Linked DNA regions of Homo sapiens. The protein of the gene in region 1 purifies or fractionates together with the protein of each later gene. This does not show direct contact. Each region holds a gene or a part of one and is shown on either strand. Other genes may lie near its edges. The genes, in order: MME, TENM3, PXMP2 and LEMD3.

What was found.
Region 2: the proteins of MME (region 1) and TENM3 purify together in Homo sapiens (affinity purification with mass spectrometry; 2 studies listed by BioGRID and IntAct, with this or other methods). This does not show direct contact.
Region 3: the proteins of MME (region 1) and PXMP2 purify together in Homo sapiens (affinity purification with mass spectrometry; 2 studies listed by BioGRID and IntAct, with this or other methods). This does not show direct contact.
Region 4: the proteins of MME (region 1) and LEMD3 purify together in Homo sapiens (affinity purification with mass spectrometry; 2 studies listed by BioGRID and IntAct, with this or other methods). This does not show direct contact.

What each region holds. Positions count from the first base shown.
Region 1 is NC_000003.12:155,083,306-155,090,340, reverse strand, and holds part of MME (neprilysin), read right to left. Parts: exon of another isoform or gene 6,299-7,035; intron 6,184-6,298; 5' UTR 6,174-6,183; coding exon 6,014-6,173; intron 5,283-6,013; coding exon 5,247-5,282; intron 508-5,246; coding exon of another isoform or gene 461-507; exon of another isoform or gene 1-460. UniProt on the Homo sapiens protein: Thermolysin-like specificity, but is almost confined on acting on polypeptides of up to 30 amino acids. Biologically important in the destruction of opioid peptides such as Met- and Leu-enkephalins by cleavage of a Gly-Phe bond.
Region 2 is NC_000004.12:182,799,392-182,803,549, forward strand, and holds the end of TENM3 (teneurin-3), read left to right. Parts: intron 1-204; coding exon 205-960; 3' UTR 961-3,633; downstream 3,634-4,158.
Region 3 is NC_000012.12:132,690,573-132,697,607, reverse strand, and holds part of PXMP2 (peroxisomal membrane protein 2), read right to left. Parts: intron 1,725-7,035; coding exon 1,562-1,724; intron 1-1,561. UniProt on the Homo sapiens protein: Seems to be involved in pore-forming activity and may contribute to the unspecific permeability of the peroxisomal membrane.
Region 4 is NC_000012.12:65,235,580-65,242,614, forward strand, and holds part of LEMD3 (inner nuclear membrane protein Man1), read left to right. Parts: intron 1-2,922; coding exon 2,923-3,002; intron 3,003-3,089; coding exon 3,090-3,235; intron 3,236-4,349; coding exon 4,350-4,451; intron 4,452-4,556; coding exon 4,557-4,659; intron 4,660-5,329; coding exon 5,330-5,508; intron 5,509-7,035.

The DNA.
Region 1 (7,035 bases):
GGGGACCGCTGTGCATTATCTCACCATGATGAAAATATCTTTCAAGTAACAGAATGCCACCTCTCCTTGTATTAATAATTAAGTAATCATCAAAAGTTTTCTTGGTATGTGCAGAATTAAAATAAAAGGAGTGGACAGTTCTGAGAGGTGTTTCATCCAGGTCTTGATGTTCCACAAGCCTGTCTGTCAAGGCTGCCATCGACAAATATGCAGTGTACAACCTGCATGACTATACAGGTGGAGGTGGTCCCACTTTCTCTTGTAAACTGTATTGATCACGTCTTAGCTTGGCTTCTCTGGCCTCTGGATAATTTAGGACCACACTTCTAACATATGCTTCTGCAGACCCCTCAATTCTCTGTTGTCTTTTTCTTTTTTTTGGAGATAGAGTCTTGCGCTGTCTTCCAGGCTGGAGTGCAGTCGTGCAATCTTGGCTCGCTTCAACCTCTGCCTCCTGGGTTCAAGCAATTCTCCTCCCTCTGGGATTATAGGCGCGTGCTACCATGCCTGGATTTTTGTATTTTTAGCAGAGATGGGGTTTCACCATGTAGGCCAGGCTGGTCTTCAACTCCCGACCTCAAGTGATCCACCCGCCTTGGCCTCCCAAAGTGCTGGGATTACAGGCATGTTGCCATATAAGGCAACATATTCAGAGGCTCTGGGAATTGGGTGTGAATATCTTTGAGAGGCCATTATCCTGCCTACCGTTAAGAGGGAAGCATTGATAACATCTTGAGACCGTTTAAACCAGTGGTACCCAGTCATAAGTGACCGTGCTGCCTGCAGGGGACATTTAGTAATGGCTAGAGACATTTTTTGGTTGTCACAACTAGGAGAGGACTGCTACTGGACATCTAGTTGGTAGAGGCCAGGGATGCTACTAAATATCCTATAATACACAGAATAGCATCCACAACGAAGAATTATCTAGCACAAAAATATCAATAGTGATTGAGTTGAGAAACCCTGATTTAAAGCACAAGATTCCTTGAAATCTAAGTTAGGGAGGTTACAATGCAATGGAAATCAGTTTCAGGATTCAGACTTACACGGAAAAGTCTGCAAAATCACATACAAGTTTTATAACTCTAAGTTTTTGATGACCTTATAGGGTAAATAAGCGATGAATAATACTTTGAAGCATTTTGATCCCTGCCTTAAGTTGTTATTTCTTAAGTGGTATTTGTTTTACTTTAGGTCTGGTGTAATCTTTCATACTGATGCATTACACATATAGGCAAGTTAATTTAAAGTATACATAAACATCATTTTATGTACATCATAAATATTTAAATCCTAGATGCTCAGATTTTAAATATGTAACACCAAACAGATTTGAAACAGCCTTCTGCAATATTTTACTTCTGTCTTGGTATGGCTTGACTTCTGTATTCCTTGACTTCAAAGAATCAAAGATAAGTACATTTGCTATGACATTCCCTTCCACTGGAAGAAAGGTTCAAGTTGGGGCCATCTTTCATATAATGTAAGCACCCTGAGTGTCAATACTTGCTTTTCCCATTCTCAAGAATTTCTGAGCTCAGGTTTGAACCCACCCACTCTCTTAAAGTGACCTATAGACTTGCTGGTAAGATATTTTATATTTTTTCAACATCTCTCTTTTCATATTTCTTTCTTTTCTTTTTTTTTTTTTTTTGAGATGGAGTTTCAGTCTTGTTGCCCAGGCTGTAGTGCAATGGCGCAATCTCAGCTCACTGCAACCTCCACCTCCTGGGTTCAAGCAATTCTCCTGCCTCAGCCTCCTGAGTAGCTGGAATTACAGGCATGCGCCACCACACCCGGCTAATTTTGTATTTTTAGTAGAGATGGGTTTTCTCCATGTTGGTCAGGCTGGTCTTGAACTCTCGACCTCAGGTGATCTGCCCGCCTCAGCCTCCCAAAGTGCTGGGATTACAGGCGTGAGCCACCGTGCCCAGCCTTCTCTTTTCACATTTCTTTTTCTTTCCATCTACTCTACTCTGGCCACTCTTCTTTAATACTTGCTTTTGTCCAAGATTTCCTCTAGGGTTTTCCTAATTTGCAACAACTTCTAAAAGAAATAGTTGTATTTTTCTGTGGCAGAAAAGATTTCCTAACCAGCAGAAGACTGTGTGTGTGTGTGTGTGTGCGCGCACGAGTGTGTGTGTTTATGAGTATGCAGAGTGTATCCATGAGGGTGTGTGTCATCTTATTTATTCTCCTAGGAAGAATAGTAACTACCAATGTGAACAAGTATTCTAATGGCTTGTGAACCAACAGAGCAGAATGAAGAAAAATATACAGCTATACAGCAACCTTGTTTACCACTGAAGTTATTTCTATTGTATACATTTCTCTGCCAAGATACATCCTGCAAGGTGTTTTACATTTGGTTTGATTTCTAAGCTACAATTAAAGGATACAGGTTAAATACATTTTAGTGAGTTGAGACTTGCCAAACACTATTTAAAAATCCTATCTCTAAACATTAAGTCACATTTAAGATTCCAGATTCTGAATGTCACATTGCTCCTTGGGAGGAAAAACCTGCCTAGATCTCTGAGGCAAAATCACTTGTCGTTTATAGAAATACACCTACCTAGTCAAAAAATCCAGTTTCTTCGAAAATAAAATTCAAGGAAAAGAAGAGAAAAAGGAAAAATAGTGAGAGAAGAGAGAATCTATAGATTAAGATACCAAAGAGACATGTCAAGTGTATTAAAGACAGAGGAATTAACCCTTAGTAGTCAATATGTAAGTGGAAGTTTCCCGAAACAGGACAGCCTGAGCATATAATAGGGTAGCTGGTAGAGAGAGGAAGCATAGGAGGATCTGGGGAGGAAGTAAACGTTAACTTTGACAACTTGGGCACATGCTGACTTTTGCACATGACCACGGAGATCCCCCAGCCAAGGTACCTGTGCAGCCATTTCCCTGGGGAATAAAGAAACTTCGTTTTTGGGAAAAACTTACTATGTCGAGCAGCAAATGGCTAACATCTAAATCAAGTCTCCCTCACGCTCCCCACATCACATCTCAGGGTGTCTAGTCATTGCTCTTGTGACCCAGAGCAAAAAAATCCATCAAAAAACGATACAAAAAAAAAAAAAAACCAAAGGGCACAGATTCAGGATATTAGACTATAACCTAGAATTGCCAGATATTTTCCCGTCATTTTTTTGCAAAGTTCAGTGAATAACAAAAATCCAAGTAAAGAATATCCAAGACTGGGTGCAGTGGCTCATGCCTGTAATCCCAGCACTTTGGGAAGACAAGTAGGAGGACTGCTTGATCTCAGGAGTTCAAGACCAAGCTTGGGCAACATAGTGAGACCCTGTCTCTACAAAAAAAAAAAACAAAAAAAAACAAAAAAAACAAAAAACCCACAACCTAGCCAGGAATGGTGGCAGGTGCCTATAGTCCCAGCTACTCAGGAGGCTCAGGCAGGAGGATGCCTTGAGCCCAGGAGATCAAGGCTGCAGTAAGCTGTGATCACAATACTGCACTCCAGCCTGGGTGACAGAGCAAGATCCTGCCTCAAATAAATAAATAAATAAAATTAAAAATATCCAGCAGAAAATGGTTAAAATTATTTGGAACAGTTTATTTATTTCTTATAAGACACATAGATGTTAGAAAGGAGGTTTAGAATCTCTTGTTAAAGGACACAAATATTGTGTTCATATCCCAGGTGCTGCCCTCAGCTACCACCTTCCTTTTTCTTGAAGAAAGAAGAAATACTCCCATTTTCACCACACTCCAATTGATGGGATTTATATAGCTTCATACACTTCTCTGTTTTCTGCTCTGACTTATTTTTCTTCTCTTCTAATCATTGATGTTGTTTAGCCCTTGAACCTCTTCTTAAGTTTAGCCCTTGAACCTCTTCTCTTCTTTTGAGAACTCAAATACTTCCAAGGCTTCCACTATCACTCCTAAACTGACAGATCTCAAATCCAAATTCCAGCTTCTTAAACCTCATCTCTACCTTCCTCCTGTCTATTTTCATCTTAGACCAAACACATCCACATCCACCTCATAACCTCTCTATTTCTGTGTGGGCTGCCTCCATTCTCTTTAGTCCCTTGGGTTTTAAAACTTGGCATCATTCTCAATTCATTCATTTTATTTAGCAAGTCAGTTCTACTGAGTCACCCAATTCTCCCTCCCCATTATCTCAATAGTACTCTTCTCTCACCACAGGCCAACCTCTTCAGCTTACACTTGGAGTACAGAAGCAGCCCCCACCTGCCTGCCCTCCTTTTCACTCAATCCAGTCAACCTCACATTCGCAGAATCATCTTTCACCTTTGGCCTGATCACTCCTCTGTTCAAAAATATCTGTTTCTCCTGTATTACAATATCAAGGCTAAACATGGATTTCAAGGTTCTCCATAATGTGTCCTTCTATCAAGCGTACACTTTTACTACTTCTCAATAACATAGTTTCTTTCTTTTGTGTTTGGAATTCCCTCTTCTGCACCGCCACATCTAAATTCTAGCCCTGCTTCAAGGTTCTTCCCAAATTTAAGGCTGGGTGCGGTGGCTCACGCCTGTAATCCCAGCACTTTGTGAGGCCGAGGGGGGCAGATCACCTGAGGGCAGGAGTTCGAAACCAGCCTGATCAATATGGTGAAACCCCGTCTCTACCAAAAATACAGAATTAGCCAGGCGTGGTGGTGGGTACCTGTAGTCCCAGCTACTTGGGAGGCTGAGGCAGGAGAATTGCTAGAACCCGGGAGGCGGAGATTGCAGTCAGCCGAGATCACGCCACTGCACTCCAGCTTGGGCGACAGAGCGAGACTCTGTCTCAAAATATAAAAAATAAAAAAAATAAATAAAATGAAATTTCTTCCCAGATTTTAACTTCTCCACCTAGATTTACATGCCTACATCTCACTCCCTTCTTCTCACCCACCTAGTGAGGTGCACTGAGACATTTAACACAATGATACGAAACTTACCATTTCATATGTGTTCATTTTCTTTCTTCAACTACATGGCAAGCTCCATACAAATAGCGATATAGTTTTCTATTGCCCTGCTATACAGCCCAGGGCTGAAAATAGTAATATATTTTTCAGAGTAAACAAGTTAATTAATCTACTACTTAAATATATTTTTATTTCCATTGATTATAGAGCCAGACACATAAATAATTGATCTACAATGAATAAAAGTGTAAACAAAGCAAATTAAGATTAGCATTTAATTTTAAATATTATACATCAGTTGTATAACTATTACACGTAAAAACCATTTCTTACCTGATTTTATGCAGTCTGATGACTTGCAAATACCATCTAGAAAAAGGAGAGAATATACATAAATATTGGCAACACAAATTTTTAAATTTCTATTTTTCTTTTGTTCTTTTAAAAACTGCCAATTAAATAAGCAATTTCTTAAAGCAAGAACTAAAAACTGAACATTATATATCATTGTCAGTGGTTAGAAAAAATATAAGAAAATAAAATAAGTAAAATCTAAATTTAAAATTTTGATTATGAAGAAAAATGTGTTATTATATCTTCTCTACCAACGAAGCCCCAGGCCTATTAAATTGAAATAATCAGTTGTTTTTGCTTGGTAATCATTTTTTTAACCATTAAACAATCAATCTTTTTTCATCCTTGTTGTAAAAAACTTCCAAGACTCAAATTAAATTTGTTAAATTCCTGTGAAGCCGTTTAGAATTTCAATGACACAACAAAAGTTGACTAATGACTATTACTAAAGCTGGCCATAAAATTGTGTATATTTTAATCAAATAAAACCATACTTTAGATTCCTCATAAGTAAGCGTGAGCGCACTAAATATACTTGCAATTAATAACTTAGCTCAAACATAAAAGGCACCGTACTTCAAAGTTAATTATTTTGACATATTGATGTTACATTTTATAAATGAATCTCTTTGTCAGTCTTTAAGTGCCTCTATCCTTAACACATTCGTTGGATAGATGGTAAAAGCATGGAGGAAGATTTCCTTCTCTTTTGCACTTATGGATGCACAGGTGTGGGAGTAACTCACCATCGTAGGTTGCATAGAGTGCGATCATTGTCACAGCTATGATGGTGAGGAGCAGGACAAGGACCGAGAGGCTGATCTCCAGTGGAGTCCATCGCTGTTTCTTCTTTGGCTTTGGAGTGTTGATATCAGTTATATCCATCTGACTTTCTGACTTGCCCATCACCTAAAATCTGCAAAAAATGAAAATACTAATAATGAAAAACAAATAAATAAAAAAGAAAATGTCCAAATGCTTAATGTGGCTGGATAAAAGTAAAAGGCTCAGTTATTTTAAAATAGAAATACATTTTTGCTGTTGAGAAGTCAAAATTTTGTTGCTGAATGCAAAGTATATAGAGCCAAATGAATTTGACAGGTCTCAGTCACAACCTTTTGTTTTTTGTTGCTGTTGTTTTGTTTTGTTTTGCTTTGGTATATCACTGAAAATCTCAGCAAAATTAGACAGTAAGACTTGGTTAAATACTCAAGTAGGATTAATTCAGCAGTTTATAAGCAAATAATTGCTGTACCATCATTAAGAAAGTTTTAAACTCACCCTTTTGAACTCTGGACTAACATCAATGGTTAATTTTATATCTTGCTCCAGTGGCTTCCTTTATAAGCTCAAAAACCAGTGACTAATACCTTGAGGTTTTGACTAAGCAATAATTTGAAATATTAATATAGATAAACAGCAAAACGAATGAACACATGAAGTAGTTTATTTTAGTCATAAAAACAACCTTTATTTTTACAGTTCAAAATTACTACTACTACTGATACCAGTATCTATTAACTGGTTAGACAACATTCTGAAAATGGTCACTCACTGTACCAAAAGATACCTGAATATCCAACCTAACCACGCCCAATCCCATTTAAGAGGGGAGTAAGGGGGATAAGTAAACAAAATAGTACAAAAAGTTACCAAGTTGATACTTGTAGTCCTGTATAAAGCAGGGTATGCAAAAACATACCTGTATTCCTAAAATCTTTCACCTCAACTGGAGATGTGTTAAAAACTTTAAACCAAAAAGTGGACA
Region 2 (4,158 bases), on another chromosome or scaffold:
TGGGGGTTCCAGAGCATCGGGATCACCTTGAGGGGGAGGGATCTCGAGTGCTCCCTCCACCCGGGCTGTCAGCCTTCTGGTCAGGGAAGGACCCCGGGGCTTCCATGCATGCCCCGGCGCTGCCCCCAGAGTCCCGTGTGTGGGTCAGGAGTGGGGAGGCTCCCGGCCGCCTCTGACGCGCCCCCTCTTTTGTTTCGCCCGCAGCCCATCTTCGGAGTCCAGCAGCAAGTGGCGCGGCAGGCCAAGGCCTTCCTGTCGCTGGGGAAGATGGCCGAGGTGCAGGTGAGCCGGCGCCGGGCCGGCGGCGCGCAGTCCTGGCTGTGGTTCGCCACGGTCAAGTCGCTGATCGGCAAGGGCGTCATGCTGGCCGTCAGCCAGGGCCGCGTGCAGACCAACGTGCTCAACATCGCCAACGAGGACTGCATCAAGGTGGCGGCCGTGCTCAACAACGCCTTCTACCTGGAGAACCTGCACTTCACCATCGAGGGCAAGGACACGCACTACTTCATCAAGACCACCACGCCCGAGAGCGACCTGGGCACGCTGCGGTTGACCAGCGGCCGCAAGGCGCTGGAGAACGGCATCAACGTGACGGTGTCGCAGTCCACCACGGTGGTGAACGGCAGGACGCGCAGGTTCGCGGACGTGGAGATGCAGTTCGGCGCGCTGGCGCTGCACGTGCGCTACGGCATGACCCTGGACGAGGAGAAGGCGCGCATCCTGGAGCAGGCGCGGCAGCGCGCGCTCGCCCGGGCCTGGGCGCGCGAGCAGCAGCGCGTGCGCGACGGCGAGGAGGGCGCGCGCCTCTGGACGGAGGGCGAGAAGCGGCAGCTGCTGAGCGCCGGCAAGGTGCAGGGCTACGACGGGTACTACGTACTCTCGGTGGAGCAGTACCCCGAGCTGGCCGACAGCGCCAACAACATCCAGTTCCTGCGGCAGAGCGAGATCGGCAGGAGGTAACGCCCGGGCCGCGCCCGCCGAGCCGCTCACGCCCTGCCCACATTGTCCTGTGGCACAACCCGAGTGGGACTCTCCAACGCCCAAGAGCCTTCCTCCCGGGGGAATGAGACTGCTGTTACGACCCACACCCACACCGCGAAAACAAGGACCGCTTTTTTCCGAATGACCTTAAAGGTGATCGGCTTTAACGAATATGTTTACATATGCATAGCGCTGCACTCAGTCGGACTGAACGTAGCCAGAGGAAAAAAAAATCATCAAGGACAAAGGCCTCGACCTGTTGCGCTGGGCCGTCTGTTCCTTCTAGGCACTGTATTTAACTAACTTTAAAAAAGAAAAAAAAATGTGTACAGTGTTTCCAAATAGTCCCGAATTGTCGACCTTTGCTTACAAGAAGTAGTCTGTCTGCATAGGATGTGATAGCTATCTCTGTTCATTTTACAATGTGGGGCAAAGTTACTGTTTCTAGACAACCCAACTGCTTTCCCTGTGCAGCTTTGTAGAAGGACATTGGCACAGTGACTTCTGCGGCGGGGATTTATTAATGGATTTTACAATGCTAACGTGGTTTCCCTTCGGGGAAAAAACTGGCAACTAGAATCCTTGTCACTGATAAGCAAAGGAAATCCTGATTTTTTTGTAAATTATGTGAGACAAGTTGTTTATGGATTTTTATATGAATTACAATTTACTGTACATCAAATCTTAGTCTCAGAGGAGTTAATTTATGTAAAGTGTTTAAAAATTTATACTTAAAAATAAAATGATAAAAACGTGAACTGTGTGATTTTTTTAAAAGGATTGCACCTTTTGTTATCTGTTATAGCTGTACAGTATGAATTATTATATTGTAGAGATATAACAACTTATGCCTATAATGTCCAGAAGTGTTAATATTTTTGTATTAGGTTGAAAAAATGTGCAAGCTTCTATCACTAGATGGATAGGACCGTGCAATTCTAGGTGGGTGGCGAATCAGAGAGCTCCTTTCTCTTCCCTCTCTCACGCATCAGGCCAGTGTCCTCAGCATTGTCAACTGAGAGGCACAGTAGACAACTAGGGCTGGTGGAATGTAAGGGAAGAAGATTGAAAAAACGGGAGGAAGGGTTCTCTGGCCCTCTCTCAACCTTGCAAGTCAATGGGGAGTTGTTGATATAATTAACCCCGAGGTTTTTACTGTTACTGTTCCAAAGCTCTGTCTCTTGATGGAGGAGAGACCACATCAGATGCTGGGGAAATAGGAGGAGGAAAGGTTCTGATGTAGTCGTGATCCTAAACACGTGTCTTAAGATCTAGGAAAGACAGCAGAAACCGAGCAGTGGTGGGTGAGCCAGATGGAGCCGGTCAGGGTTACTCTAAGCCCACATGACCAAACCATCTTGGGGGGCTGGTTTGAATGACAGCCTCTGCTCTGTCTCGGGGAAGCCGGGGGTGGCAGATCCAGCTGGAAGTGAACTGACAGCCGCGCCCTCCTGCACACATGCATGCACGCGTGTGGGAACGAGCCCAGCCGCCATCTGCACTTCCGTGTCGGCTCAGCTCTGACAAATCTCTTTCCTGAGCACTAAATTCAGCCACGAAAATATTTTTAGAAGATATTTCTCAGTTCATCGAGCTATAGTACACACTGTTTTCCTCTATGTATAATGGTGATAAAATATAGCAAGTGAACATGTCGTAAATATAAAGGTTCAAGTGATGTATTGAAAATAATTTTCTAACTGCTTTGTATGTATCACATACTCTAAATTGCACAGTAGGCGTGTTTATTAAACAGATGATTGGCTGGGAAAGTTTCAAAATAGCTACTGAATTTACAGTATCAGTGCTATTACTGTCTTTGTGTATTTGGTAGAGCATACCGAAGTAATTAATCTTCTAATGAATGCTGATGATATTTTATTAGAATGAAAGCACAGATTAGCATTAATATTTTTTATTCTGGAAATCCTTTGGCAAGTATTATGAAGCCCAAATTTAGAAAACTATGAGATTTCAAACCACATAAACATGATTCTGTTTTCCATTTTATTTTTTAACTGTTAGGTATTTGCAGTTCTGTTCCGTGGAACTTCTGCAGGCCTGTATTTAGCATGCTGTAAGTACTTTTGGGTGAAATAGGCTCTGAGTCTAAATTCTCAGACATGTTTCTGATGTATTACCATGAAAAGCTTGTGCCACATGACAGAAGTGAGATCATAGTCTTAACCTCTTCTTGACGTGGACTGGTCTTCACTCGGGCACCGATAAATAACAGATTTGGAGTATCTCCTGGTGCTTATTTTAGATGATGAAGTCAAATCAACCCAATTAGTGTCCTGTTAGTAGGTATAATGAGCCTATTTCTTTCTAAAAAGACTTGTGATCTGGACATGCTTTTACAAGAAATAGTGACCTTGGGGAATATGTAAACAAAAGACCTTTTTCTAAGAGTTGGGAGGGGGTGGGGGACTGTATAATGAAAAGAATTAGCTTACAAAAAAGAAATTGATATTCAAAGTATTTTAGGCAAAGCCAGTCAAAATGCTTTCATGATATTTTGAGATGTAAATTTTGTCTGATTTGTATTGTTCTTTTCATTTGCCTTCTTAACTTTATATGTGACCTGAATTTTCCATAACTTGATGACTATAGATTGCACCTAGGCATTCCAATAAAAGCCAACCCAATGTGTGTGTGTTTTTATATTTTTTCAAGTCTTGGGCTAGCCAGCATTGCTTTTGTGTTTAACGTGGAGGACGCAAATAGATGCAGTTGTTGGGGAATTGATTCATCTGCAACCCAGTTGGTAGTATCTTTTTTTTTTTTTTTTTTGTCCATTGGCCAGACTGCTGGCTCAGCAGAGTGAACTTCACAGGGGACTCTCCCATGGCCTACTTTAGAAAAACAGTAAACACACCCCCACAAAGCCAAACACGCTAACTGTAAAGAAGAGTTTACAAAAATACCACCCATTACTACTTGAGAGCAGGCCTCATTCCTGTGATCCTGGCAATAAGTGTGCTTAATTAAAACACTTGATTAGAATAATCAGTTTGGGCCTGGTAGGCTTGCAGCCTCCTGGAGATGTCTAAATCTACATATAGACCGGCTGATTAGAAGATGCTTAGTTCAGCAATTCTGGCCGGCAGGCCAGGGCTTTGATTTTAGTCGGAAGAGGCAGACTTCATCACACTTGCTTTCTAGTGACAACCTCAA
Region 3 (7,035 bases), on another chromosome or scaffold:
GGTGAAACCCCATCTCTACTAAAAATACAAAAATAAGCTGGGTGTGGTAGCGGGCTCCTGTAATCCCAGCTACTCAGGAGGCTGAGGCAGGAGAATCGTTTGAACCCGGGAGGCAGAGGTTGCAGTGAGCTGAAATCGCACCACTGCACTCCAGCCTGGGCAACAGGGCGAGATTCTGCCTCAAAAATAAAAAATAAATAAATAAATAAATAAAATAGGACTACAAAGGAACCAATAATACTGAAATACAGTTATCAAAATATTCAGAAAAAATTTTGACAGACTAATGTGTTTATTTATTTATTTATTTATTTTTGTCTTTTGAACCAGTGTCTTGCTCTGTTACCCAGGCTGGAGTGCAGTGGTGTGATCTCTGCTCACTGCAGCCTCCACATCTTGGGCTCAAGGGATCTTCTCACCTCAGCCTCCCAAACAGCTGGAACTACAGGTGCACATCACCACACTGGCTCATTTTTTACTTTTTGAGAGATGGGTATTCGCCATGTTGCCCAGGCTGGTCCCGAACTCCTGGCCTCAAGCTATCCACTGGCCTTGGCCTCACAAAGTGCTGGGATTACAGGTGTGCACCATCATGCCCGGCCCTGTTTCTTTTTTCTTTTTTCTTTTTTTTTTGAGGCAGAGTCTTGCTCTGTTGCCCAGACTGGAGTGCAGTGGCACAATCTCAGCTCACCACAACCTCCACCTCCCGGCTTCAAGCGATTCTCCTGCCTCAGCCTCCCGAGTAGCTGGGATTACAAGCACGCACCACCATACCTGGCTAATTTGTTTTGTTTTGTTTTTTGTTTTTGAGACGGAGTCTGGCTCTATTACCCAGGCTAGAGTGCAGTGGCGACATCTCGGCTCACGGCAAGCTCCACCTCCCGGGTTCACGCCATTCTCCTGCCTCAGCCTCCCAAGTAGCTGGGACTACAGGCGACTGCCACTGTGCCCAGCTAAATTTTTTGTATTTTTAGTAGAGACGAGGTTTCACCATGTTGGCCAGGCTGGTCTCGAACTCCTGACCTCAGGTGATCCACCCGCCTCGCCCTCCCAAAGTGCTGGGATTACAGGTGTGAGCCACTGTGCCCGGCCTGTTTCTTTCTTTACACAGTGACAAGACCTCTAATGGCAGGTCCAAGTAGTAATGAGCATAAATTATATTTCGAGATATCTGTAACAACTGATGTGATATAAAAATATCTGATTAGCTGGGTGTGGTGGCACGCACATGTGGTCCCAGCTACTTGGGAGGCTGAGGCAAGAGGATCGCTTGAACCCAGGAGTTTGAGGTTTGCAGTGAGCTATGATTGTGCTACTGCACTGCAGCCTGGGTGACAGAGTGAAACCCTGTCTTTAAATAAATAAATAAATAAAGTGACTCTACTGGGTACAAACAGGTCCTGCCAATACTAGATGTTTGCTTCCTATATTCATAAAAGAAAATGCAAAATTTCAATTTGAGTGAAAAATCTGCAGACCCTCTGAATTCTGCCGAGAATGTCAGGTGAAGAATCCCTGTGCTAAACGAAGAGCTGCAGTAAGTGCTGTGGCAGACACCCACCTCCAGAAAGTTCATGATGAGGAAGAACAACATGAGGAAGGCCGGTGCAAAGACGAGGCGGTCCAGGAGAAGCCTCCTGAGCCCTGCCAGGGGGACCTCAGGAGGGATCCAATGTTCCATGAAGAAGTAGAAGAAGTGACTCAGCGGCCCTGTGAAGAAGAACCTGAGGCCCCCAGGGGGTGTGAGCCAGATTGTGGTTCTCTGGATGTGCTCTTCTCTGGTCTAGCTTCACCCCCAAATCCCAGGTCCTAACCCCTGCTTCCTGATGTCCCTCAGTATTGGCCACACAGGTCTGTACAGATAAGTCGGCTTCAGGGGCGCTCTGTCTCTGTTGCTCTAACAGACCAGACTTGCTCCTGCCGTTGACTCTCTGCTCCCAGCGCGTCCCCGCCTAGCTATGTTGGCTCGCTCCTCCTCACACTGTCAGCTTCCAGGTCGTCCCAGCACGTGTGCACGCCTGTGCTAACACTCTTGGCCCTGGTTCATTTTCTGCCTAGCACTGTCCTTATCTCATATGTTAGGTTAGTCTGTGCCTCTCGTCCCCCCTAGAAGGCAGGCTCCACAAGGGAGGCTACGTCTTCTGTCCACTGCAGTGCCCAGAACAGGGCCAGGCTTCGAGAAGCACTCAATAATGAATCATCAGACATGTCCCTGGTTGTGGAGCTTTTCATTAAACTCACTAGGCTAACTGGCAAGGGAACTCACTAGGTTAACTGGCAAGGGCACTCACTAGGCTAACAAACTGGCAAGGGAACTCACTAGGCTAACTAACTGGCAAGGGCACTCACTAGGCTAACTGGCAAGGGCACTCACTAACTGGCAAGGGCACTAACTGGCTAAGGGAGCTCACTAACTAACTGTCAAGGGCGCTCACTAACTAACTGTCAAGGGCGCTCACTAACTAACTGGCTAAGGGAGCTCATTAACTAACTGGCAAGGGAGCTCTCTAACTAACTGGCTAAGGGAGCTCACTAACTAACTGGCAAGGGCACTCACTAACTAACTGGCTAAGGGAGCTCACTAACTAACTGGCTAAGGGAGCTCACTAACTAACTGGCTAAGGGAGCTCACTAACTAACTGGCAAGGGAGCTCACTAACTAACTGGCTAAGGGAGCTCACTAACTGACTGGCAAGGGCGCTCACTAACTGACTGGCAAGGGCGCTCACTAACTAACTGGCTAAGGGAGCTCACTAACTGGCTAAGGGAGCTAACTAACTGGCTAAGGGCGCTCACTAACTAACTGGCAAGGGCGCTCACTAACTAACTGGCAAGGGCACTCACTAACTGACTAAGGGAGCTCACTAACTAACTGGCAAGGGAGCTCACTAACTGGCAAGGGAGCTCACTAACTGGCTAAGGGAGCTCACTAACTAACTGGCTAAGGGAGCTCACTAACTAACTGGCAAGGGAGCTCTCTAACTAGCTAAGGGAGCTCACTAACTGGCTAAGGGAGCTCACTAACTAACTGGCAAGGGCGCTCACTAACTAACTGGCAAGGGCGCTCACTATCTAACTGGCTAAGGGCGCTCACTTAACTAACTGGCAAGGGCGCTCACTAACTAACTGGCTAAGGGAGCTCACTAACTGGCTAAGGGAGCTCACTAACTAACTGGCTAAGGGAGCTCACTAACTGGCAAGGGCGCTCACTAACTAACTGGCAAGGGCGCTCACTAACTGGCAAGGGCGCTCACTAACTGGCAAGGGCGCTCACTAACTAACTGACTAAGGGAGCTCACTAACTAACTGGCAAGGGAGCTCACTAACTAACTGGCAAGGGAGCTCACTAACTGGCTAAGGGAGCTCACTAACTAACTGGCTAAGGGAGCTCACTAACTAACTGGCAAGGGAGCTCTCTAACTAGCTAAGGGAGCTCACTAACTGGCTAAGGGAGCTCACTAACTAACTGGCAAGGGCGCTCACTAACTAACTGGCAAGGGCGCTCACTAACTGGCTAAGGGCGCTCACTATCTAACTGGCTAAGGGCGCTCACTTAACTAACTGGCAAGGGCGCTCACTAACTAACTGGCTAAGGGAGCTCACTAACTAACTGGCAAGGGAGCTCACTAACTGGCTAAGGGAGCTCACTAACTAACTGGCAAGGGCGCTCACTAACTAACTGGCAAGGGCGCTCACTAACTGGCTAAGGGCGCTCACTATCTAACTGGCTAAGGGAGCTCACTAACTAACTGGCAAGGGAGCTCACTAACTAACTGGCAAGGGAGCTCACTAACTAACTGGCTAAGGGAGCTAACTAACTAACTGGCAAGGGCGCTCACTAACTAACTGGCTAAGGGAGCTCACTAACTAACTGGCAAGGGAGCTCACTAACTAACTGGCTAAGGGAGCTCACTAACTAACTGGCAAGGGCGCTCACTAACTAACTGGCAAGGGCGCTCACTAACTGGCAAGGGCGCTCACTGACTGGCAAGGGCGCTCACTAACTAACTGGCAAGGGCGCTCACTAACTGGCAAGGGCGCTCACTAACTAACTGACTAAGGGAGCTCACTAACTAACTGGCAAGGGAGCTCACTAACTAACTGGCAAGGGAGCTCACTAACTGGCTAAGGGAGCTCACTAACTAACTGGCTAAGGGAGCTCACTAACTAACTGGCAAGGGAGCTCACTAACTAACTAAGGGAGCTCACTAACTGGCTAAGGGAGCTCACTAACTAACTGGCAAGGGTGCTCACTAACTAACTGGCAAGGGCGCTCACTAACTAACTGGCTAAGGGCGCTCACTATCTAACTGGCTAAGGGCGCTCACTTAACTAACTGGCAAGGGCACTCACTAACTGGCAAGGGAGCTCACTAACTGGCTAAGGGAGCTCACTAACTAACTGGCTAAGGGAGCTCACTAACTAACTGGCAAGGGAGCTCACTAACTAACTAAGGGAGCTCACTAACTGGCTAAGGGAGCTCACTAACTAACTGGCAAGGGTGCTCACTAACTAACTGGCAAGGGCGCTCACTAACTAACTGGCTAAGGGCGCTCACTATCTAACTGGCTAAGGGCGCTCACTTAACTAACTGGCAAGGGCGCTCACTAACTGGCAAGGGAGCTCACTAACTGGCTAAGGGAGCTCACTAACTAACTGGCAAGGGCGCTCACTAACTGGCAAGGGCGCTCACTAACTAACTGACTAAGGGAGCTCACTAACTAACTGGCAAGGGAGCTCACTAACTAACTGGCAAGGGAGCTCACTAACTGGCTAAGGGAGCTCACTAACTAACTGGCTAAGGGAGCTCACTAACTAACTGGCAAGGGAGCTCTCTAACTAGCTAAGGGAGCTCACTAACTGGCTAAGGGAGCTCACTAACTAACTGGCAAGGGTGCTCACTAACTAACTGGCAAGGGCGCTCACTAACTAACTGGCTAAGGGCGCTCACTAACTAACTGGCTAAGGGCGCTCACTATCTAACTGGCTAAGGGCGCTCACTTAACTAACTGGCAAGGGCGCTCACTAACTAACTGGCAAGGGTGCTCACTAACTAACTGGCAAGGGCGCTCACTAACTAACTGGCAAGGGAGCTCACTAACTAACTGGCTAAGGGAGCTCACTAATTAACTGGCAAGGGAGCTCACTAACTAACTGGCTAAGGGCGCTCACTAACTAACTGGCTAAGGGAGCTCACTAATTAACTGGCTAAGGGAGCTCACTAACTAACTGGCAAGGGAGCTCACTAACTAACTGGCTAAGGGCGCTCACTAACTAACTGGCTAAGGGAGCTCACTAATTAACTGGCAAGGGAGCTCACTAACTAACTGGCTAAGGGAGCTCACTAACTAACTGGCTCAGGGAGCTCACTAACTAACTGGCTAAGGGCGCTCACTAACTAACTGGCTAAGGGAGCTCACTAACTAACTGGCTAAGGGAGCTCACTAACTGGCAAGGGAGCTCACTAACTAACTGGCTAAGGGAGCTCACTAACTAACTGGCAAGGGCGCTCACTAACTAACTGGCTCAGGGAGCTCACTACCTAACTGGCTCAGGGAGCTCACTAACTGGCAAGGGAGCTCACTAACTAACTGGCAAGGGTGCTCACTAACTAACTGGCAAGGGAGCTCACTAACTAACTGGCAAGGGCAGGACCTGGTGCAGCACTCTAGGTTGTGTGCGTTGCTACTAATCATTCCCCTGTGTGTTTGGGAGAGAATGGAACCAGCTGCCACATCTACTGGGACAAGAGGCCTGCAGTTCCATAAAATTCAGCAACAAAAAGAGGGGTCTTTCAACTTGTGACGTTGACAGTCTTTAGATAAGTGGTTCTCAGTGTTTTTTCCCACCCAGTCATAGGGGGTTATGTGGCCTATGCAGGGATTCTCAGTGGGGAAGGGGACTGAAGTCCTGTGGATGGGAAAACTGTACTTGGATGAGGCCTGCTAGGTGATCTCATCACCTGCCCCTCTTGGGGGGATTACTGCTTTAAATACAGTATGGAAAAATCCATGATGACTCAAGTTAGCAAGCTTGGAAGTATAAAAATGATCTTCAGGAATTCTGAATTAAAGAAAACATCACTGTAGTTGGAAAATACTTCACATTACTGTTGGCCGAGAGCTCACGGTGGATTAAATTGGTAAAACTCTTGAATTACTGTGCTTTTGCAACTCAGAAAGTGGTTCAGAAACTGGACATTTTTCAGGGTACCGAAGCATTTATTTTCTGGATGTTTACACTATGAAAATAACAATAGAGGCCAGGCACTGTGGCTCGCGCCTGTAATCCCAGCACTTTGGGAGGCCAAGGTGGGCGGATCACGAGGTCAGGAGATCCAGACCATCCTGTGAATGGTGAAACCCCGTCTCTACTAAAAATACAAAAAATTAGCCGGGCGTGGTGGCAGGTGCCTGTAGTCCCAGCTACTCGGGAGACTGAGTCGGGAGAATGGCGTGAACCCAGGAGGCAGAGCTTGCAGTAAGCCAAGATCGCGCCACCGCACTCCAGTCTGGGCAGCAGAGTGAGATTCCGTCTCAAAAAAAAAAAAAAAAAATTAAAATAACAATAGAAACTAACTGGTCAAATTGGAGTCAGTTTTCCCTTTCCATGAGCCCAGTCTAGGACGCTTTCAGGGTTTTTGAATCCTGAAGTCTGACTTTAGGTTAAGTTGAGTTACTTGTCCTCAGGTTTGCCTCTCAGCCCAATTAAGACAGTCACCCCTACCCATCCAATTAAAAAGAAACATGATAAAACCACAAATGTGAGCCTGTACTCCTAGCACTGTAATCCCAGCACTTTGGGAGGCCAAGGAAGGTGGATCACTTGAGGTCAGGAGTTCAAGACCAGCCTGGCCAACATGGTGAAACCCCATCTCTACTAAAAATAACAAAAATTAGCTGGGCATGGCGGTGTGTGCCTGTAATCCCAGCTATTTGAGAGGCTGAGGCAGGAGAATCACTTGAACCAGAGAGGCAGAGGTTGCAGTAAGCCTGGGTGACAGAGTGAGACTCTGTCTCCAAAAAAAAAGAAAAA
Region 4 (7,035 bases), on another chromosome or scaffold:
TTCATTTATATTAGGTGTTATAAGTAATCTAGAAATGATTTAAAGTATAAAGAATGATGTGCATAGGTTATATGCAAATACTATGCAATTTTATATCAGGGACTTGAACATCTGTGGATTTTGGTATCCATGGGGCATCCTGGAACCAATCCTCTGTGAATACTGAGGTATGACTGTATATATAAATTAAATGTTGTAGTTTTATTTTTTTAAGCAGATAGCTGTTTAGCTCTCATCATGATTATTTCTAAGTTCATAATATCCATTGAAATGATCTCATATATAAACCTTTTTTCAATCATTAAATACATTGTCTGCAATTTTTTTGATGTTTGTAAATGCTATAATAAACACCCAAGCTTAAAAAAACAGATGGCCTATAGTTATCTTCACCATCTTAAAAATCCTAATAGTAGTTTCATGTAATGATGCCTAACAAGATTAGTTCTGCTTTATAAAACTTTTTATTACATTTGCAAATTTGATACATTAGAATAACTTACCAGTTTTATATTAGGAAGTAAACTATACTGATCAAATGAAAACCTTATAATTTCCAATGCTGTTGAAGAATCTGTTGATAAAATACAATAGGACACTTCTTAGAAAAATCTTTTTTTTAGAGAGAATTTGAAATGACTTTTTATTTCTGTTTTTAGAAATTCATTTTTTCCTCTACGAGCCAGGCACAGTGGCTCATGCCTGTAATCCTAGCACTTTGGGAGGCCAAGGCAGGCGGATCACTTGAGGCCAGCAGTTCGACACCAGCCTGGCCAACATGGCGAAACCCCATCTCTACTACTACTAAAAATACAGTGATTAGCTGGGTGTGGTGGCACACGCCTGTAGTATCACAGTTACTTGGGAGGCTGAGGCACAAGACTGTGCTTGAGCCCTGGAGATGGAGGTTGCAGTGAGGCGAGTTCGCACCACTGCACTCCAGCCTGGGTGACAGAGCAAGACTCTGTCTCAAAAAAAAAAAAAATTCATTTTTTGCTCAAAAGGGACATAAAGACATACTAATAATACAAGCTCCATGAACACAGGGAATTTTTCACTGTGTTGTTTATGCTGCACCTCTAGTTTCTAAAATAGTACTTGGCACATGGTAAAGGTGTTTATAACAGTATTATATTTGATAAATTTTTAAAAATTGGACATATTCTAAATGTTCATTAATAAGGTGTTGATTAAAAGTATAGAATAATCATACAATGGAATACTATTTTGTTGAAAAAAATAGGGTTTTTTCCATGTAAACTGACATTGACACAATATTTTGTTCCATGAAGAAAACAAGTAGAACAGTAGTATGTGTAATATGATACCACATTTATTTTTACTATTTTAATTTAAAAATACTCTACCCACACATAGCAGTTCTTAAGCTTTTTGGTTCCCTATAATTACTGAGGACTCTGGCTTTTGTTTGTGGGAGATATACATTTATATGTTTTTGTTTCTATTAGAAAGATATATTTACTTTCTAATGGTAAATATGTATTACAAATACATGTTTATATTAAAAATTAAAACTGAAAAAAATTTATGTATTTAGAATAAGAAAAATGAATCTATTATATGTTAACGTAATGTATTTTTATGAAAAATAACTTTTCCAGAATGAAAACATTCAATGAGAACAGTGGCATTGTTATATATTTTATAAATCTCTTAAATGTGTAGCTTAATAAAAGGTGACTGGATTCTTATCTGCTTCTTTATTCAATCTGTCATGATGTTTTAGTTGAAGTATGTCATGAAAATCCAGCCTCACATTGATATGTAGTCAAAACATTGGAAAGTATTTTAGTTGCCTTTTCAGGTAATTGTAGATAGATATTTTCTTTGATACCATACCAAACCTCTATAAGTAGTAGTTTCTTAAATGTTAGTTGCAATGTGGAATGTCAGACTGTGCCAGTGAACTTTTTGTACTCTTGTCTCATAAAATCCTTTTATTTTGTACTTTGAATGGATCTTTTACCTATGCGTGATTGGTTTTTATAAAAATCAGAATTTTTCAAATGCATTGGTCATTTTCAGATGCATTGGTCACATTTCATTATTCCATATCAAAAAACTGCATTTGTTAATGTCACACAAATCTCATTGGAAAGGTCTTCAAGTATTGTGAAGTTGTCCAGGTCACAAAGATGAATGCTAGTTTTTCAAAATTCTACTTTTTACTTGAATGCTCAAATCTTATAATTGGTAACCCGGTCAGTTTTTCTTTAGTTGATAGGCTTACTGCTTTTATGTGTTGAGAATACTTGTCTGTGAAACATCCAAATCTGGAAGAGTTTGCCATTTATTTGTTCATCTATAAATAATATTGCATTTTTAAAAGTGGTAAATTCACTCTTATGATGGCACTGATAAACTAATGATAAAAAAAGAACTTCCAAGCCAGGCGCAGTGGCTCATGACTGTAATCCCAGCACTTTGGGAGTCCAAGGCTGGCGGATCACTTGAGGTCAGGAGTTTAAGTCCAGCCTGGCCAGCATGGTGAAACCTCGTCTCTCTAAAAGTACGAAAAAAGAAAATTAGCTGGGCCTGGTAGCTGATGCTTGTAATCCCAACTACTTGGGAGGCTGAGGCAGGAGAATTGCTTGAACCCAGGAGGCGGGGGCTGCAGTGAGCCAAAATTGTCCCACTGCACTCCAGCCTGAGTGAGAGAGACTCAGTTCCCAAATATGTAAAATATAAAAAAGCAAAATATTAACACTGATTATATTGGAGTAGTGGGAAAATGCTAACTTTTTTTTTCTTTTTTCTCATTCTTTTTAAAATTTTCTGTAATGAATATTTTATGTTATGTAGTTAAAATAAAAATGTTATATAGAGTGTGTTATAAAGGATACTTTACAGAGAGTCGAATGTAGATTAAGAATAGTTATTTTTCTCTATTTTTCTTGTTAGGATTTAGGTCCTGAATATGAAGGTATATTTAACACTTCATTGCAGTGGATCTTAGAAAATGGAAAAGATGTTGGAATAAGGTAAAGGATCTGATTTCCACTTTGACCATTCTGTACTGGGAGAAATGGTTTTTGACTTTAAATTCTACCTTACTTATTTTTAAATAGGTGTGTTGGTTTTGGCCCTGAGGAAGAATTGACAAATATAACTGATGTGCAGTTTTTACAGTCCACAAGACCACTGATGTCTTTTTGGTGTCGTTTTCGACGTGCTTTTGTTACTGTAACTCACAGATTATTGTTGTTATGCTTAGGTAAGTTGTAAAGATAAGAAATGAGATAAATTGCAGCCTGAATTTTTGTGTGTATTTCACTAAATGCCAGAGTTGAGAATTCATTTTTGTGATGGTTGCCACATAAGTCACAGCTAGATGTCTTCACTAAATATAATAAAAATAATGTCAGAATCATTCTAAAGGCTTAGAAAGCAGTAATATAAGGAGAGGTAGAAATAAAACTTTGTTATAAGACTGTCACAGAAAAACAAGTGTGGTCAGTATATACATAGAAATCTACTTTAGAAAGTAGAATTGAAAAATACAAAAATTGAGCTTATTTTTAAATAATAAAGTGTTATAAAGTTTATTAAAATTTAGTTTTTAAAATGTAATTTACCTACATTTAAAATTTTTATCATTTTTTAATTGATAATAGGGATTTAGGTGAGAGTTGTTTTTTCATTCTTTCTTTCTTCTTTAAAAATAATTCATTTTGGCCAGCTTTAGTGGCTCACACCTGTAATCCCAGCACTTTGGGAGGCAGGAGGATTGCTTGCACTCAGGAGTTTAAGACCAGCCTGGGAAGCATAGACCCTACCTCTACAAAAAAATTTTTAAAATTAGACAGGCATAGTGGCACGTGCCTGTAGTCCCAGCTACTTGGGAAGCTGAGGTAGGAGGATTTCTTGAGCCCAGGAGTTGGAGGCTGCAGTTAGCCATGATTGCACTACTGCCCTCCAGCCTGGATGACAGAGTAAGACCCTATCTCAAAAACAACAACAACAAAAGAAAAATTCATTTTACTTAAAGTAAGATTTAGTATGTTTAATCTCATGAGGTTCACTTTTCTAGTCGTTTTATGCTTCAAAGGAAAAAAGTTTGTGAAACATAGTTATATATATATATTTTTAAATAGTAGTTAGAATTTAAATGTTCACTTATCAGTGTAATGGAAGAAATGCTTTTTTCTAGAAAGTGAATCTTTGGAAAATGTTCAGTATTAAATTTTTTTATGTAGTTTTAATTATATAGCTAATTCAGCCATCTGTCTTGAAGGTTCATTCCGTTGTGGCAGTTAAAATAATCACTGAAATATTATTGAATGATATTGACCACAATTTTTAAAATACAAAGTATATTAATATTACAGGTGTAGTGATGGTTTGTGTCGTTCTGCGTTACATGAAATATCGATGGACAAAAGAAGAGGAGGAAACAAGGCAGATGTATGATATGGTGGTAAAGATTATAGGTATGATATTTGTAAGAATCTCAACTATTTCTAGAAGAGTCATTGCATGATTAAACTACATTATGTCAAGTGATTGATTCATTTGTAAATTTTATTTATTTTTAGATGTTTTACGAAGTCATAATGAAGCCTGCCAGGAAAACAAAGATTTACAACCTTACATGCCTATTCCACATGTACGCGATTCCTTAATACAGCCTCATGACAGGTGTGTTCAAAGCATTATGAGTTCAAGTAAATCAGAAAATTTAAGTGCTTTCTGCAGTATTGAAAATTATATTGAGAGCTGTGACCCTTCTCAACTAGACTTGCTTACTGCACAGGTTTTTTTTGGTTTTGCTTTGTTTTTGTACTTTATACTCTCTTTCTAAATTCTCTTCCATTCTCCTGATTTTGAGTGACACCTGGATTTCTAAGTCATTCTCATTCCTAGGCATTCTTGATTCTTTGTTGTTAGTCTCCATCTTATTTCCTTTAATTTCATCTTGATAAAGAAATAGATGACAGCCAGTGGCTGGTGTTTTACTAATGTTTTTTAAGTACTAACTTTATTATTAATGAAGCTTTTAAAGTAAAAACTAAAATGCAACTTTTTGAAAATAAAAGATAATTCCATATCCTGAAGCAGCATCTTGACCCTAGCAACACATAAAGCCAGTGGAGCTTTTGGGGAAAAAAAATACAGATGTTTGTGCTCTAGCTCTGGAAATTGAAACTCAGAAAATCTGAGATGAGATATAGGCATCTAAATCTTCTTTGAACAAACTCCATGAGTAGTGGTAAGAACAGCTAGAGTTAACTATTACCTCAGATACTAATATTTCAAAAAGATGACAAGCCAAGATGATAGTAAATTTGCCATTTTGTTCACATGATAGGAAAAAAATGAAGAAAGTCTGGGATAGAGCTGTTGACTTCCTTGCTGCTAATGAGTCTAGAGTTCGCACGGAAACACGAAGAATAGGTGGTGCAGATTTTCTGGTTTGGCGGTGGATCCAGCCTTCTGCATCCTGTGACAAAATATTAGTTATACCTTCTAAAGTATGGCAAGGTCAAGGTATGTATTTTTAAACATCAAAAAAGTAATTTTCTTCTAATTTTTCAAAATGACAAATATGTGTTAAGTGAAACAGTACAATTCAAAGATGTATGAAGGCAAAACTCTCTCGTTCTGTTTCGTAGAAGGAATCAGTGTTAGCTTCTTATGTATCCTTCCACACTTTTATCTTTGCTAATGCAAACATAAATGGTTTATCTTTAATAAAGATGAATATTCCTTGAATCTTGCCTTTTTCACTTAATGAAGCAACTTAGTATTATATATATTAACTGCATTCTTTTCATCTAATTTCTTTATGTAAATAAGACACATAATTTATGTTATATATACAATAAAATATATATAAACTATATATGTATATAAGTGAAGTCATAACTTTTTAACTGCTCTTTTTTTTCCAGTTTTTGCCTGCCTCCTCTTACTAAGACCTTTCTATTTATATATTCCTCCTGCCAAGTAACTTTTGTGGGTATCTTTCCATATTTTTCTTAATGCCTACATAGTTTCAAAAACATGTATAAATAAGAAAGGGGTAAGTTTATAGGGGGTTTTGAAGATTGGCTGTCATATGTACCCAAACCTTTACTACACAGAAAAGCAGAAAACAATGCATCAGAAAATTATGACTTTTTCCCTATAAAAGTATGTCAGTATTTGCTAAACATAGTATTTGTGGAAAAGGTAAGTTGTTTTGGACATGCAATACAAAGTCCAGTCACTCCTTTTTTATTCTCCAATTAATTTTCACTTTGAAAAAGCTTGAATAAGAGGCTTCTTTAAACATGGCATAAAAGTGATGCTCTGTCAGGGTAAACAGCTAAAGCAGGCAGGGCTTAATACCTGGGTGATGGGTTTGAGTTGATAGGTGCAGCAAACCACTATGACACACGTTTACCTATGTAACAAATCTGCATGTCCTGTACATGTATCCCAGAACTTAAATTAAAAAAATGATGCTTTCATGTTGCCAATGATTATACTATTTCCTCTAAATGATGCATGCATTTCAGTTTCCCTATAAACTGAAAATAGAGAATTCCTTATTTTACTTGACCTCTTAACAGTGTTTGACAGTTCAGCCCTCCTTGAAACTTTCTTCACTGGGATTTGGGGATGCCACCTTCTTCTGTTTTTTTTCTCCTACCTCAGACTTTTTCTTCAGTCCTTTTCTAGATTATCCTCTTTTTCTTCACCTCTAGGTGTTAGAGTTTCTCAAGGCCATCTTTTTTTTCCCACTCTGCCATTTCTCCCTAGATAATCGTCTTGCTGTGACTTAATTTACCATATTGGGATAACTCCCAAATTTTTTATTTTGAATGAAGTCTGGTTTTCAGATTTTTGTACCCAACTATATATTTCTGTACTAGGAGGTGGGCACCACAGATTCAACATGTACACCAGCCTGATCCTCTTCAGTGTTCCTAGTCTAGTTAATGATACCTTTCCTGAGTTGATTCTGCCATAAACTTAGGGATAATTCTTAATCTCTCCTTTATCCCTCTTTGTCCAACCTTTCAACAGGTC